Regions from separate parts of the Homo sapiens genome. Here region 1 is linked to region 2. The links come from fine-mapping of genetic effects on gene expression. A gene starts in region 2. The other region holds a variant in brackets. All regions are shown on one strand. Distances are between the middles of the regions.

Region 1 (5,518 bases), 45 kb after region 2:
GGGCAGGCAACTGCCAGCTGTTCTGAGCCCAGCTTGCCTGGGGAAGCTCTGGACAGTGGTAAGTGACAGTGCAGTGTTGTCAAAAATGTCGCTTTTATTTCAGCTTGAAGAACTTCAGAAAAAGCAACATGAAGCAAAGTTGGCAGTGACTCCCCTGAAGGTAATATGTTCATAAAATCAACATGAAATGCCTCTTTCAAAACAAAAGAGAGTTTAGTAGTTTTCCTGTTAGACATGTAATCCACCTCTATTGTATAAAAGTCTGGGTAGGGCCAGGCACGGTGGCTCACACCTGTAATCCCAGCACTTTGGGAGGCTGAGGCGGGTGGATTGCTTGAGCTCAGGAGTTTGAGACCGGCCTGGGCAACATGGCCAAATCCCATACAGGCGTGATGGCATGCGTCTATAGTCCCAGTTACTTGGGAGGGCTGAGGGGGGAAGATTGCTTGAACCCAGGAGGTCAAGGCTGCAGTGAGCCGAGATCACGTCACTGCTCTCCAGCTTGGGCAACAGAGTGAGACCCTGACTCAAAACAAAACAAAACAAAACAAAACAAAACAAAAAAACCGCAAAGAAGAATGAAGGAGACAGAAAGCAGCAGCCCCTGCTTGCACATGGCATTTCCATGTCTTTTCCTCCAGTACGTTTCCCATGTGTTTGAGAGCCTACGATGCGTATACGTTTGCCTCCTGCTGTTCCCACTCGATGGGGTGACCTAGGAGGTGGGTCCCAGCCTTTGAGGCTGCACTTTTCATGCTGGGGTGAAGCACGAGAGGCCTTGGTCCATAAAATCACCACCCCTGCGCTCTGTGCTCAAGCCCCTTCCTTTCTATCACTCTCTCTTTTGTATCATTAATTGTGTGCAAACACTGTGATGTAGTTTTTTTTTTTTTTTTTTTTTTTTTTTTTTTTTTTTTTTGAGATGGAGTGTCACTCTGTCGCCCAGGCTGGAGTGCAATGGTACGATTTTGGCTCACTGCAACCTCTGCCTCCCAGGTTCAAGTGATTCTCCTGTCTCAGCCTCCCAAGTAGCTGGGATTACAGGCATGTGCCACCACACTTGGCTAATTTTTGTATTTTTAGTAGAGACAGGGTTTCACCATGTTGGCCAGGGTGGTCTCGAACTCCTGACCTCAGGTGATCCACCCCCTCTTGGCCTCCCAAAGTGCTGGGATTACAGGCATGAGCCACCGTACCCGGCCAATGTACAGGTTTTCTCAGAAAGGTTTTCTCCACGTATCTAGACATTTATGTTTAAGATCAATTCCCAGAAATGTCATTACTCACCCATGGGGTTTAATATATTCTTTGCTAGCAGGACACAGAATTTGGTCAAGGTAACACATTTCATCTTGAACATGGGCCTGGATCTGAGGAGAAGCTGGGGGCTCTGCTCTTTCTCTCTGGCCTCAGGGCAGAGTGGAGAGGGAGGTGCCCTGGGCTGGGCATCAGCAGAACCTGGTTATGCCCTGGACTCCCGCTGACCTGCAGAGTCATCCTCCCTCTGGGGCCTCAGTGTCGTCAGCCGTCAAATCAGAAACATGAGCCAGACAGTTCCTAAAGTTATTTTCCACCCCACATTTCCGTGTCTGTCTGAGCCTCGAGTTGGCGCCCGTAAAATAAAAATCGTCATAATTCCTGCCGCGCCCCTGCAGACGTGGTAGCTGGAAAGGTGCAGAGCGGACGGTGAGGCTCCGGCAGTGTGAGGCTTCCCTCCCCACCGCTCTCATCACCATCATTTGCTGTGGAGCATTTCTTTAAATGGAGGCCATAATCCCTTATAAAGTGCTATCGAAATGTGAGATAAGGATAGAAACATGACACTCGGTAGGTGCCTGCCTGCGCCGTCTCCTTTTATCCTGGTGTCCATGACAAAGCCCATTGTACAGATGGGCAAGTCGAGGTGCAGAGGGGAGCTTGCTCACAGAGCTGGTCCGTGGTGGGGCCCAAATCCACGCTCTTGACCCCTGCTGCCTTGAGCCTAGACCCCATGGAAAGGGCAGTGCGGAGCCCCTGGGGGTGTGTGGCCGTCTGCTCCGAAAGCAGCCTGGCTTCTGGGGGCAGGGAGGCTTCGCAGGGAGGAGGCTGCTCCGCTGAGCTGAGGCAGGGCTGGGGATGGTGAGTAGGGGCCTCAGCTGACCCTCCGGCCCCCAGCCCTCCAGCTCAGCCATGCAGCCCTGGTGGGAGCTCTGCATCCATGGCCTCCCTCCCTTTCAGGCCAAGATAGCTTCCCTCGTCCGGAAGTGCCGGGAGAGGAACCGCCTGATCACCCACCTGCTGCAGGAGCTGCACAGACATGGGCTGGGGAACCTCCTGCTCTCCGAGCTGGCGCAGAACATGCTCAACGACGTGGCACTGGCTGAGTACACGGCCACCTTCCTGGCTCCGGGAGTCCCAGAG[G/A]TAGAGTCCCAGAGATGGCCCTGTCTGTGCTTCCTATGGGAGTGTGGGCGCGTCCCTTGCATGCCCCTGCCTGACTGGAGCAGCCCCTCCTTTCCTCCCTCCCTCCCACCGCGGACACTACCCAAGAAGACACCCCCTGGCTTTTCCTCTGTGCCCATGCCCATGCCCTGGGTGGGCATGGGAAGATGCATCTGGCAATCCTTACCCTTTATGGTGCTCAGGAAATGGTGCAAGGCACAGACGTAAACAGTGATTGTAATTCAGCGTCATACAAGCTTCATTGGGTGTGTGTCACAGGATGGGTCTTTTGTGCCGGGACCTGTGCACTGGCCACTTCCTCTAGCAGGCTGCTTTGGTCACCCCATGACCTCCTGTCCATCCTTCAAGGTAGAGGTGTGACCTTGCCCAGGCAGCCTGCTCTGAGCCCCGCAGACCAGAGAGTTAGCCACAGCTTCCTCTGTGCTCCATTGCACGTGGCCCCGCGTGACGGGGCATGAGCAGGGAGCTCTCCTGGCTGTTGCAGGAGTTTGTGGGCCCATCTCCGATGGGCCCAGAGCCGCTCCATAGCCATCTTTGTCTTCCCAGTGCCTGGCTCTGAGAATCTGCCACAAACCTGGAAGAATGTTGGTTGAATGAATGAAATAATGAACCAAATGAATGAGAATCTCCTCTCCCAGTGGTCAACAGAAGAGGAAGCTGAGGCCAGAGAGGTTAGGAGATGTGCTCCGGGTCACACAGGCAGTGCACACAGGGACAAATGCCAGCTCTCCTGACTACAGTCAGCACCCACGGGTGCCCAGCCGTGCCTGCCCACACATATACATGCAGCCCCGTTCCTGGGGACAAGCCAGCAACGCCCCCGCCAGACTAGCTCCGCTCCTTATGTGCGCGGGTGAGACCAGCTCCCACGGTAAACACAGCCGGGGCTGTTTTCCATGGTCCCTCCAGGCTCTGCCTGTGGGGCTTGCTCTCAGCCCCTTGGCACCAGGTCTGAGTCTCTCTCTGCAGCTCTGCCCAGCCTGGTCTCTGCAAGGCCAACCTCCTCTGACCCTTCCTTTTCCTCACAGCCTTGAGAGGTCCCCTCTGGTCCAAATCATTGCACAGCAGAGATGGAGGCTTGGAGGCCAAGAGGCATGTTCAGGGCCATTTTTTGACTCAATTCATAGGCAGAACTTGAATCCAGAGCCCCAGACTCCCAGTCTGTTGCTCTTCTCTTTGCCCAAGGGGTACAAGACTCCTTCAGAACTAGAATAAGGGTGAGAAAAGAGAGCAGAATTTTGTCCAAGTGCCTGCATAGTCCTTGGGATCCACTAGGGGCCTGATATCTGGGGGTTAAGTGAGATAAAATTGAAAGCAGGCCGGGCGCGGTGGCTCGTGCCTGTAATCCCAGCACTTTGGGAGGCCGGGGCGGACAGATCACAAGGTCAAGAGATCGAGACCATGCTGGCCAACATGGTGAAACCCCGTCTCTACTAAAAATACAAAAATTAGCTAGGCGTGGTGGCATGTGTCTGTAGTCCCAGCTACTCAGGAGGCTGAGGCAGGAGAATCTCTTGAACCCGGGAAGTGGAGGTTGCAGTGAGCCGAGATCACACCACTGCACTCCAGCCTGGTGACAGAGCAAGACTGTGTCAAAAAAAAAAAAAAAAATCGAAAGCAGAGTTCCAGGTTGTGAAAGTATCAAATTGCAAATGCAGCAGGTGTCACCCTGGAAGGCCGGCTGGCTGGCTGCTGTGGGGACATCATAGCAGCAGCCCACCTTCCAAGGGCTGCTCCTCACTCTCACAGGCCCTGGAACTAGAATTGAAATGTTCACTGGGGTTGGATCGGCTGACTTACAATGACCAAACTTACAGAGAATGATGTATACACTGGACTATTAATTTTTAAATATCCTATGAGAAAGAGAACTATTACACAGGTTGAAGTATCTGATGAATGGATGAAAAATTGTCAGCGTATTCTCTCCCTATAGTTGAGTTATCTGGAAAATCAAATTTTTTCAGTCATTTCTTCATCTGTCACTTGAGAGCCCAGAACGAGAGCAGGGAAAGTTATTTTAATAATGTCATCGGACGGATTCATTCATTTCCTATAAGGATGTGCTTCTGGGCCTGGACACGCTTCCGTGGACCAGGATGTCCCTGCCAGGCCTTTTGAAAGTGAAAAAAAAAAATTGTGATGTGTTTCAGAAATTCAGAGAGCTCCAGGCTGGCTGCAGTGTGGTCCCCAGGGGAGGAGTCGGGGGAGGCTGGGCTGATGGGAGGCCACAGGCACCTGTGCCCCGGCAGGGTGTCTGCATCTTGATTCCTAGTGGACAGCAGGGTGGGCGTGGCGCTGGCCACTCCTCCTACTGGTAGCCAGGCAGGAAGCGGGTCCAGTGCTGCTTGCTTGATGGGCAGTCAATTCAGAGGACACAGATGGAATTCCCGATGGGGGCCTTTGGGCTCTGGCTAGGAGCCCAGGAGGACTGCCAGGATGGCTGGGGAGACTCTGATGGGCTGGAGGTGAGAAGTGCCAGAGCAGCAAGGGACAGGTCCTGGGAACTTCAGCCAGGCGGTGGAGGGCTGATGTACCTTCCAGGAATACCCCTGGAGGGCCCTGGGCTCCTGTTGCTCACAGTGTCCTGAGACGCTCCCATTCTCTGGCCCCTGCCTTTGGGTAGGGGGCGTGGGCTGGCTAGGGTCCCAACTGGACAGGCTGCCTTCATTTATCCAGCCAAGTCATGGTGGCCAAGACTCATGCTGCCCTCCCCCTCGCACGCTCTCCATGGATCTGCTTACTCCACCCTCCCAGCATCCTGCTGCTAGGCTCCACGGGGGACCCTGAGCCTCAGCATGTCCCAGGGCTGTTGAGGGGGTGGGGGCTGGGCCTTGGGCTGAGGCCACTAAGCTCTACCCTTTCAGGAGGAGGTGGCGTGGCCTGGTGCCCATGCAAGCAGCAGTCGGTGACCACCTCCCCTCCCTGCACGTGACTGAGTCTTTGTATTTCCATTTTCTTTTCTTGTCCTGGTTTGGGTGCGTGGTGGAAATTGAGCCTCAGAGTCGGTTTGGCCCCAGTGCCCTTTCTGCAGGCATGTGGTGTTGGGCTGGGGGCCACGGGTCCCAGCACCGCTGTC
Region 2 (5,000 bases):
CTGGAACCCAGGCAGCCTGGCCCCAGCGCCTGGGATCTGAGTGGCTCCACTGCACCCCCATCCCCCGCCTCCAACTGCCCCAGGTCCACGGAAACCCCTTGTGGCCAACAAGACATTGGCCACTGTTGGGAAAATATGATTAAAGACAAAAGCTTCTCCCAGCACAGAAAACCTCATCACAAAGAAAATTTAAAAAAGGTTTATTATTGAATAAGCATTAAACCAAGATATGAGGTGCATTACAGGTAACCCACTGAGAGATTGCAAAGACAGTAAGAAGTTTCACCCTTTTATATGGCCAGGCAGGCACAATCCATGCACACATCCTCTCTCATCCCTGCGGAAAAGGACTCGATAGCGTCATTGTTTCACATGGTTCATCCTAAACTCACCTGACAACGAGGGCAACCCTCTGTGTTCATTAATTTGTTTTATACAAAGGAAAAAAAAGCTTCTCCTGCACCTGGGTTCCACCCTTCTGTCACTTACTGTGACAGGTTTTGCATCTCGGAGCCAGGCGCCTGCCCAATTCGGCTCCTTCCTCCCACTGAACACTAGGGGCGCTGTTTTCCTTCGAATTTACATCTCAAAGAGGCGGTGCCCAGGTCCTTCAGGGAAACATTCCTGAGTCGTAATGCTGGAAAAGGCTTATTTCGCTGTAAAAAGGATTTACACATATTTCAAAGAGACAAAGAAAGAACTTACACATTTTCTAAAGTAGATGCTTTAAGAAAAGGGAGGGAGGACGTCTCTTATTTTTAACAGGGAGACGGAAGCCTCTCATTTTCTATTTGTCTTGGTCCTGACGCCTCTTTGCACCAGGCCTGGCCTGTGGCGCTGCCTCCTCCTACAGGTGCAGCTGCCTCCATCTCGCTCCTGCAAACCCCAGAGTGCTCGATCCTCAAAATGACATTTGACCAGGCACCTCCCTTCTCCCAGGGGCCCACAGAAACGCCGGAGTCCTTGAGTGCCTGAGAGAAGATGGCACCCAGCCTCCTCTGTCCTCACTCCTCACTTCCTCCTTCTGTGTGTCCACGGGGCCAGCTTTGTCTGGTCCTCCTGTTCCCTTCACTTGTCCTGCCTGTCTGTGCGGGTCTGTGGCCTGAGGATGCTCCCCACCTGGGGGAGTCTCCTCCCCACCTCTCTCTGCTGTAATTCCCCATTCCTCCTACGATCTCTTCAGCCTCATGCTCGCTCCCCCTCCTCAGGGTGCCCAAAGGATGCGTTTGCTCCTTTTCTGGGGTCTTGTTGCTCACCTATTACTGTATCTCCTGTGTCAGAACACACACACTCCAGTTTGGGAGTCAGATCCATATTTGAATCCTGATTCTGCTACTTCCCATCCCACCTGTGGGACCCGGATAAGCTCCTTCACCTTCCAGAGCCTCCGTCTGACCATCTGTATAATGGTCATGTTAACGCCCACCTCATAAGGTCACCGGGAGAATTGGACTAGGTAAGGCATGAGAGGCCCCTGCCCTGGATGCAGACGGCACCCAGGGCAGCATAAATTTCCCATCCTCTTCCCCTAGCAAACTCTAGGTCCTTGAAAAATATGTGCTGTGCTCAAAGAGGAGGTGTGGAACCTTATTCATTATGTGGTAAAAAGATAAGCTTCATTGACTACTGGGAGTCTGTAACATCTGATGGCCTTACCTGGAGGTCTTATTTTTCCTCTCTGTGTTCATCACTAGGCATTTCATCTCAAGTGATTTTTCTGCAACTTTTTCTTGCTTTGCGTGAGTTCTGGCATGCTGACTTGTAAAACGAGAGGCTTTCATTCATATTGTATGACGCTTGTGCAGATGAAACCCAAGTCACCCACTCATGAATAATCCACCTGTTCTTGCCCTTCTCAAAGGATATTTTCCTGAACAATCTGAAGTCACAAACACCACCTTGAAATCTCCGGGAAGTCAATGTTGCAAACTCACTTAATTTTATTATTAAGTCTTGCCCCATGAAATATTTCTGAGATGGAGCCAACAGCCAAGGGACGGACTGAGGAGAGTTTCAGCTACGTCATCAGAGCCCCCAGCAGTGAGGGGTTCGACATAATGAACGTTGATGTGAAGATTGACACATCCTGGATATTCCAGGACATGGAAGATAGTGCTGAGGAGCGGGAATGTCTTCAGGAAGAAGCAGCTGGCCGCCCAGACATGGATATGGGTGCGCTCAGGAGGCAGCTGGAGTCCTCCGAGCAGAAGCTGTCAGCAGCAGAGGACAAGTACGTGACATCGGAGTCCGGGCTGAGAAGCAGGTAGCGATGCCATTTTGATCTCTCTGTGTGTATTTCACAAACCGCGGGGCCATCAGAGTGTGTCACCATGGTGTGTTGAATCACACCACACAGCTGGGGAAACTGGCTCACCAAAGACACGTAACCTGCCCACGCAGTCACTTGCCTTCTGCTCCTCCCGCCCTCCTTCTTCTGCTCTGTACCTGCAGATGAGGCTGCCCGGGCTCCTCTGCTCAAAGGCTTCCATTTAGGTGCAGCCAATGGGAGGCCCTGAAACGGAGGGAGGCAGGGAGAAGCCAGGTGTTCTCCCTCTCTTCTTCTCTGGGTGACTGTTCCATGAAAGGGCCCTATGTTCAAAGTGACAGGGAAGTGTAGAAGGAACTGAGAAACCAAGGACAGAGGCAGACAAATCCAGTTGGTCGGTTTGGGGTGATTTTTTTAGGGGAACTGGCAGACAGAAGCATGGTTTTAGGCAGCCGCCAGACAAGTAGATGTCCACACAGCAAACCTTCCATCCCCAACCCAGGGCTTATATCCTGGGGAAAAAGCATGTGTGCTCTGGAAGGCTTGCATAGGTGGCTACAGGCATCACAGCCTATGGTTTCTGCAATGACAAGGGTTGTTTTGGAGGAAACTCACAATGAATAGGTGTTTCTACGTAAACAGAACTATATCAACTCCACATCTTGGAGGCATTCGTGGACTCAGGGTTAGTCAAGAGTCACCTGCTGGATTAGCGTTTAAAATAAAGTCACTCTTGTTCCCACAGTGACATCTCCCACTGTGGCTGTAACTCAGATGTGCTCTCGGCTTCCTCTGCGGTCCCAGCTCCCGCTGGGTGGCCTGGCTGCTCTGCCCTGCCCTGGTAACATCGTCTCTTCCCTGTGTGGCTGTCCAGCCCCAGGGGCAGAAGTGGCTTCCGGCAGTTGCTAATCCAGGCTGCCTGTCTCTGTCTGGCCTTTGGACTCTGCTGTCATCTTTGAAATAGGTTCTCCGCATTCGTTTCTCTCTGTAGAACTTCCTGCTGTGGGCACTGTTTGCCTGATGGAGCTGACCTGGCCTCAAGGTGGGGCGTTTGAATCCAGGTCTTTCTCTAAAGCCCATCTTCTTTCCTGACGATGTCTTGACACCCAGACTGGCAGAACGAGGTTGGGCCTTGTATATAGATCAGCGAAACCCAGCATGGAAGCACAATGCAGTGACAGCGGGGATTGATTCTGACACGTTACTCATATCCCAGCAGCCACGTGCCTTGGATTTTTGCGGGACTTCCCCATTTTCTTGTACTTGCCTTTGATTTAGTAAAGGCAGACCATTGAACGTGTATGCACATGTGATTTACTTTTCTTCCTTTTGGTAAAGTTTTATGCATGAAGAAATTCACAAATCAGAAAAATTCTTCTGTTACTCTATGTGATTGCCCATTCTTTCATTCATTCTGCAACGCACTTACCCTCCGAGAGTCATATACAAAGTTATGTTAGTTTGCCTGGGTTGCCATGACAAAGCACAGTAAGTCCTCACTGAACGTTGTCTATAGGCCCTTGGAAACTGTGACTAAGTGAAGCAACCTACAACAAAACCAATTTGTTTTTGTTTTTTATTTTGCTTTGTTTTGAGATGGAGTCTTACTCTGTCACCCAGGCTGGAGTGAAGTGACATAATCTTGGCTCACTGCAAACCCCACCTCCTGGGTTTAAGCGATTCTCCTGCCTCAGCCTCCCGAGTAGCTGGGACTATAGGCGCCCATCACCACGCCTAGCTAGTTTTTGTATTTTTAGTAGAGACAGTGTTTCACCATGTTGGCCATGCAGGTCTCGAACGTCTGACCTCAAGCGATCTGCCTGCCTTGGCCTCCCAAAGTGTTGGGATTATAGACGTGAGCCACCACACCTGGCCACAAAACTAATTTGACCATAGGCTAATTGATACAAATAAGAGTTAAGTTCCTACAGCATATTTCAGGTCACAAAAACATCACCAAACTTTGAGATAAAGACCCCAAACACTTCTAATGTTAAACATTGAAATAAATGTGAAAGGCTCAAACAAATTTAGATTTAAGAAAGACTCAAAAAAACACAAGTAAGATGATTATTTACCCAATTGTTCCAGTTCAGGGTCACAGGTGGCTGAGGCCTCTCCCGGCAGCTCAGGGTGCAAGGCCTGAACAGGACACTCACACCCACGCGCACACTCACGCAGGCTGGGACTATGTCGACATGTCAAGGATGGTGACATGGGGATATGGACCCAGATTCGCCGGCTGGTCTCTAAGACCAATCACAAGTATCCTTGCGAGAGGGAGACAGAGAGGGTTGAGTCTAGGGATGGCAGTGTGGCCGCCAGTGTGGGATTGCATGCAGCTGGCTCCAAAGATGAAGGCAGGGCCAGGAGCCCAGGAATGCAGCTCTAGACCTGGAGAAGACCAGGAATTGGATTTCCCCTTCAGCCTCGGAGAGGGCTTGGCTCCACTGACAGCTCGACTAGCTCAGGAAGACTGATTCCGACTTCTGGCCGCCAAGCTTGTGGTGACGTGTTACAGCTGCAGGAGGAGACCAGGGTACCCCGAGAAAGCCCACACAGACATGGGGAGAATGGGCAAACTCCACATAGACAGTGGCCCTGGCTGGGAATCTTTTTTTTTCTCATCAACATTATAATGAAATGGCATTATTTGCAGACCTGGGTGACTTAACAAAAACTTATTTTCTCACATTTCTGGATCCCAAAAGCCCAAGCTCGGGGGGTCGGCAGG

Which allele goes with the higher level. Alleles are on the strand shown, and positions count from the first base shown. SD is a standard deviation of normalised expression in the study named.
With allele A in place of G in region 1, the expression in prefrontal cortex of the gene that starts at base 1,977 in region 2 is higher (moderate effect, 0.72 SD a copy in ROSMAP).

The links. PIP is the estimated chance that this variant, and not a neighbour inherited with it, causes the effect.
Region 1: its variant is the best candidate, but not a certain one, in a credible set for the expression of C4orf50 in prefrontal cortex (ROSMAP, PIP 0.53).

Annotation. Positions count from the first base shown.
Region 1 is chr4:5,970,541-5,976,058 of GRCh38, reverse strand. It overlaps C4orf50 (chromosome 4 open reading frame 50), which reads left to right. Exons shown (of 12, transcript NM_001364689.3): 8 at 104-160; 9 at 2,218-2,400. Among named protein-coding and RNA genes, the nearest start is that of C4orf50, 45 kb to the left of the region's middle. RefSeq lists enhancers at 1,517-2,077, 2,078-2,639, 4,261-5,071. The variant G/A (reference allele first, on the strand shown) is at 2,401.
Region 2 is chr4:6,015,408-6,020,407 of GRCh38, reverse strand. C4orf50 (chromosome 4 open reading frame 50) reads left to right here and starts at 1,977. Exons shown (of 12, transcript NM_001364689.3): 1 at 1,977-2,263. The coding sequence starts at 1,977.